Linked DNA regions of Homo sapiens: region 1 is linked to region 2. Evidence: fine-mapped expression QTL. A gene starts in region 2. The other region holds a variant in brackets. All regions are shown on one strand. Distances are between the middles of the regions.

Region 1 (2,500 bases), 26 kb before region 2:
ATGGATGCATAATATCTCTGATTATTATACAAGGCAGTAAATATTACACGTCTTCTGAGAAAAATGGCTTGACCTGGTAAAATGCCTATTGACAGGCAGAAATTCAGTATTCGCTATTTGTAACTTTTTAAATTGAAGTGCATAGGTACAGAAAAGAGCAAGAAGCAACCTTAAAAATTTTCTAAATTAGAATCTAAATTTGGTTTAGTACCTATTCAACACTCTCTCCCCATACAAACACTCTTTCTCCCTCATTAATTCTTACATCTGTGAATTTTGTACTCCATCCCATGAGATGAGGGGTACTTTCCCACCATTTTATGAAACCCAAACCGAGTATTTCTAATACCTCCGATGTTCATAGTTAGTAGCCCATATTATCAGCCTATCAACCTGAATTATTCTAAAAACACATTTTATATTCATTAAACAAACATTATTCAAATTCTACAATGTATAAAATACCTTGCTAGGTGTCACGGTTTCTTTTATCTTTATCTTTTCTTTTCCTTTTTTTGAGACAGGGTCTTGCTGTGTTGCCCAGGCTGGAGTGGGGTGGCACTATCATAGCTCACTGCAGCCTCAAACCTCCTGGGGTCAAGTGATCCTCCCATCTCAGCCTCCTGAGTAGCTGGGACCACAAGTGCATGCCACCCCTTTTTAAATTTTGTGTAGAGACAAGGTCTCACTATGTTGCCCAGGCTGGTCCTGAACTCCTGAACTCAAGCTGACCTCCGCTGTTAGCCTCCCAAAGTGTTGGAATCATAGGCGTGAGCCACCATGACCAGCAGTGTCATGGTTTCTATCCTTAAAAAGTTCTATTGAGGAAGACGTGTCCCAGAATGAACTTGATGTAGCAGAATGAGCATGAGCACTGCAGCCAGACAGATCTAGGTTCAAATCCCAGCTCTGCCACTTACAGTATAGACTTGGGCTCTGAGTCTCAGCTTTCTCATCTGTAAAACTGGGAATATAATACCTTTTAGGCAACTCAATAAGTAGTTGAGTAGCTTCCCAATAAGTGTTTGTTGGTTGAACCAACAGTGGAAAAATGAAAAATAACTATAATACTATAATAAAGGGTAGAAATGAAATAAGTGAATCATTTTCTCTTCTTGT[CT/C]TTTTTTTTTTTTTTGAGATGGAGTCTCGCACTGTCACCCAGGCTGGAGTGCAGTGGCGTGATCTCAGCTCACTGCAACCTCTGCCTCCCGGGTTCAAGCTATTCTCCTGCCTCAGGCTCCTGAGTAGCTGGGATTACGGGCGCCCGGCACCATACCTGGCTAATTTTTTGTATTTTCAGTAGAGACAGGGGTTTCACCATGTTGACCAGGCTGGTCTCGAACTCCTGACCTCAAATTATCCACTTGCCTTGGCCTCCCAAAGTGCTGGGATTACAGGCTTGCACCACCACACCCGGCCAAGTGAATCAATTTCAAACTGAGTAAAGCATCATTAATCCATGTTTGACCCATCACAGCAATGTCATCAAAATAGTCAAGGACAACTTATATTTAGTAAATGTTGGAAAGAGGCTGGAATATTCCTTAGTCCAAAGAGAACAATACATTCATTCAAGTCTTGGGTAAGAGAAATAAAGCCAGTCCTTGATTGACCTAGCAAGCAAGCACAGTTTACCAGGAACCCCTCCCTACACAGCGTGAAGGTAGAAATGGTGCTGGCAGAACTCAGTCTCTCTAATAAGTCATCCGTCGAGAGCATCAGATGGGCATCAGGCATGGAGGCTGCAGGAATCTGAATCTAAAAGCAGGGCAGAGGAAGCCCAGGGTTGTACATGGGGTGATGATTTGGCTCATGTGTCTTTCTCCCCTTTTCTTAACCCACCGATGATAAGCAAACTTTAGCATGCATCAGAATCACCTGGAAGGCTTTTTAAAACACAAATTGCTGGCCAAGTACAGGGCTCACTCGTATAATCCCAGCACTTTGAGAGGCTGATGCAGGTGGATCACTTGAGTCCAGGAGTTCGATATCAGCCTGGGCAACGTGGCAAGATCCTGTTTCTACAAAAAAAATACATAAATTAGCCGGGCATGGTGGTGTGCACCTGGGGTCCCAGCTACTCGGTGAGAGATGAGAGGTCAAGGCTGCAGTGAGCCAAGATCATCTCAAAAAACAAAAACAAAAACAAACCAACCCCTAAAAAACATGGATTGCTATAGGTTTAGGTGGGGCTCAACAATTTGCATTTCTAATAAGTTCCAAAGTGATACTCGTGGTCATGGGACCACACTTTGAGAACTGCTGCCTTGACCTGTTGCAATCAGACAAGCAATCAGTCCTACTTGTCTTCAATAGAAATGTCAAGAAGGCAGTGGGTTTCCCAGTATCTATTTTGGTGATTCCAAAATAGAGAGTAGAAAGAGAAAAAAGCTTCCAGAGGGCTCTCAGAACTTCCCAGGGATCTCAAGATGACTTACAAACTACACAGAACACTTAGGACACCTGCTTCCCACTCCAGGGGAAAATCACTGAGTTCACT
Region 2 (3,016 bases):
CCCGGTTCTCAGCTGTGTTCTCAGTCAGGGTTGTTCCCCAAAGTCCTAAGGGGCATGGGAGAGATGCCTGGGATGCTCAGTGGCAGTGTTCCTCCCAGTCATCCCCACCCATCTGTCTCTGGACTTTAGCCCCTTTCCACCCCTGCCCTTCCTTGCCCATCACCTTCATCCTTGGCTGAATCTGGCTACTGTACCCACACCCATGCTTGCTCTTCCCATCAGCTCCCTGAGGTCGACAGGGGTGAAGGCCCTGGCTTGTAGAGAATGAAGGCATGGAAAGGAGGCACCTGTTCCAGGTGGGGTAGTCTAGGGCATCATCACATCCATGTCCTCCCTCAAACCAGCTCCCACATACCTCTCTGGATCCCCAGGTGATGACCATGCCAGGCTCCCACAACCGGTAGACCGCTCAGCTGGCCTCTGTGTTCTGGGTCATGCAGCACTACCATGGGCAATTCATACACCCCAAAGTGACACCGAAAGGTCACCTCTTCTTCAGATCACATTCCACCCCCACCCCCTGCCCAAAAGCTTTTGGTGACTCCTCCTGATTCTAATATCCCAGGAGAACTGTCCCCCTATCTGGTACCTCTGATGCCTTGACAGATATGGAGGCAGCAGCTGGACACCTGGGTCCTGTATGCCGTCTCCTGGGGTTCATCTTCAGGCTTCTTGGGTTGGGGCTGGAGAGGCCCCGTGCTGGAGATGGTGCAGACTCTCAGCGTCCCGTGTGGGGAAGGGGGACCACTGTAGGCGGGGTTGTCCCAGGCTCCACTCCCCAGCTTTTGCAGCTCCTGCCCCTCAGGACTTCCCACAGCATTCATGGGGAATGAGGTGGGGGGGCCCGGTACCCCAGGTGCCCACTCTCAGCTAGAGGAAGAGGGAGCAGAGGCACAGCCCAGCCTAGCCAGCAGAGAGCAAATGGAAAGGCGTCTGAGAGCAGCTGTTTCCACACAGCCTGGGCTCCTGCCTTTTGTAGGGGGATGTCTGTGCCTGCTGGGGAGGGAGCGGATGAGAGGACAGGGTGGGGAAGGACCATCAATCCTGTCAGGAGCTCTCTCTCCCTCTTGCTGCAAGCCCCAGGGGACCAGCCGAAAGGGGAGGTGAGGGAACTGGAAGGTGGGGGTTTGAAGAGGGGAGAGGGGAGAATAGGAGGAGGATGTGGAGCTGGGAGTGGAAGGAGAAACGGGAGGAAAAGGCGATGCTGGGGATGAAGGGGGCTGCTCGCAGATGTGCCTGGTGGAGAGATGGCCCAGAGGTCGGACAGAAGAGACGATCAAAGAGCAATGGGAGGAGCTGAGACAGGAGGGGAGCCGGGGGCCTGTGCTGCGGGTCTGAGCTCATTTCCACTAAAAGCTCCTAAAAGGGCCGACATGGATTGGGGTGGGGACCAAGGCTGGGAGGAAAGCTGAAGAGCGCTGTCCCCCTCCCAGGCTCTGCCCACCTCCCAGGTTCAGTCAATGGGTCTGAGGCTCCTGTCCTGTCTCACCTTCAGCTGTCCCCTGGTGGAGCAGAGATGGGCAGCTCCCTTCCCTCACTTCACCCTCTCAGCCGTGGGGAAAGGACAGTGGCAGGAGGAACCCCAGTCTCACATACTTCAGGGCACTGAGGGGGCAGGGGAGAGGACCACAGAGTCCTAGGTTGTCTATATTCCTTGTTCTGAAGCTTGCCTTTCCATGGCTTACAGGTGAGATACACCAAGAGAGGGGGTTCCTTAAGGGTGTGGGGCTCAGTATGGGAAAAAGGCTAAGACCTGGTTGGGAGGCTGGATCGGAGAACAAAGGACAAGGACAGTATGATGTGGGACTAAAGGGGAGTGGATATCTGGACCCAGCTGAGCTGGGAACCTTTTCCCATGGCTCTGCTTAGTCCTGGGCCTAGAATCGTAAACTTGAGCACAAAGTGGAACTATCCATGATATCAGGATTAATCTGCTTTCTTTATAACTGCAGGTCTCTGAATTAAAACTGTGTCATGGGCCCCCAAGCACATCCCTGCCTATGCCCTGCTCCAGCTTCTGATCACCTGCTCCAGCTCCCCTATAGGCATGCATGATGCCCCAGAATGGGGCTGATCCCACAGGTTGTGGTGGTCACCCTGCAGTTTCTCCTCCTTGAGGCTAGAGCAGAGACTTTCCTCTCCTAACTCCTGGCTCCCCACCCAGGGCTACTCACTGGCCTGAAGCCCACCTTCACATTCAGCAAAACATCAGCCTTGTCAAAATAATCAGTCTTGAGTGTCCCTATAAAGAGATCTTGGCTGGGTGTGGTTGCCCACACCTGTAATTCCAGCACTTTGGGAGGCCAGGGCAGGAGGATCACTTGAGCTCAGGAGTTCAAGACCAGCCCGGGCAACATGGTGAAACACCGCCTCTACAAAACAACAACAAAACAACAAAAATTAGCCAGGCATGGGGTGCGTGCATGTAGTCCCAGCTGCTACTCAGGTGGCTGGGGTGGGAGAACCACTTGAGCTGGGGAGGCTGAGGCGTTGAGGCTGCAGTCAGCTGAAATCACACCACTGCACTCCAGCCTGAGCAACAGAGCAAGACCCTGTCTCAAGAAAAAAGAAAGAAAGAAAGATAACAAGTGTTGGCAAGGCTGTGGAGAAAAGGGGCCCCTTGTATGCTTGGCTGTATTGTAAATTAGTACGGACATCTTGGAAAACAGTATGGAGGTTCCTCAAAAAACTAAAAATAGAATTACCATATGTTCCAAGAATCTCAAAGGAATTGAAATCAGTGTGTTGAATAGATGTCTCCTCTCCCATGTTCATTGCAGGATTATTAATAATAGCCAAGATATGGAAACAATCTAAGTATCCATCAACTGACGAAAGGATTTAAAAGATGTGGTATATATGCACAATATAATATATTCAGCCTTGAAAAAAAAAACACAGAAAATTCTGTCATTTACGACAACATAGATAAACCTAGAGAACATTATGTTAAGTGAAATAAGCCAGGCATAATGAGACAGATGCCCTATGCTCTCACTTATATGTGGAAACTAAA

What was found. PIP is the estimated chance that this variant, and not a neighbour inherited with it, causes the effect.
Region 1: its variant is the best candidate, but not a certain one, in a credible set for the expression of PKD2L1 in prefrontal cortex (CommonMind, PIP 0.89).

The regions. Positions count from the first base shown.
Region 1 is chr10:100,303,995-100,306,494 of GRCh38, forward strand. All of the region lies in intron 2 of PKD2L1 (polycystin 2 like 1, transient receptor potential cation channel), which reads right to left. Among named protein-coding and RNA genes, the nearest start is that of BLOC1S2, 19 kb to the left of the region's middle. The variant CT/C (reference allele first, on the strand shown) is at 1,120.
Region 2 is chr10:100,329,280-100,332,295 of GRCh38, forward strand. It overlaps PKD2L1 (polycystin 2 like 1, transient receptor potential cation channel), which reads right to left and starts at 949. Exons shown (of 16, transcript NM_016112.3): 1 at 590-949; 2 at 1-45. The coding sequence starts at 824.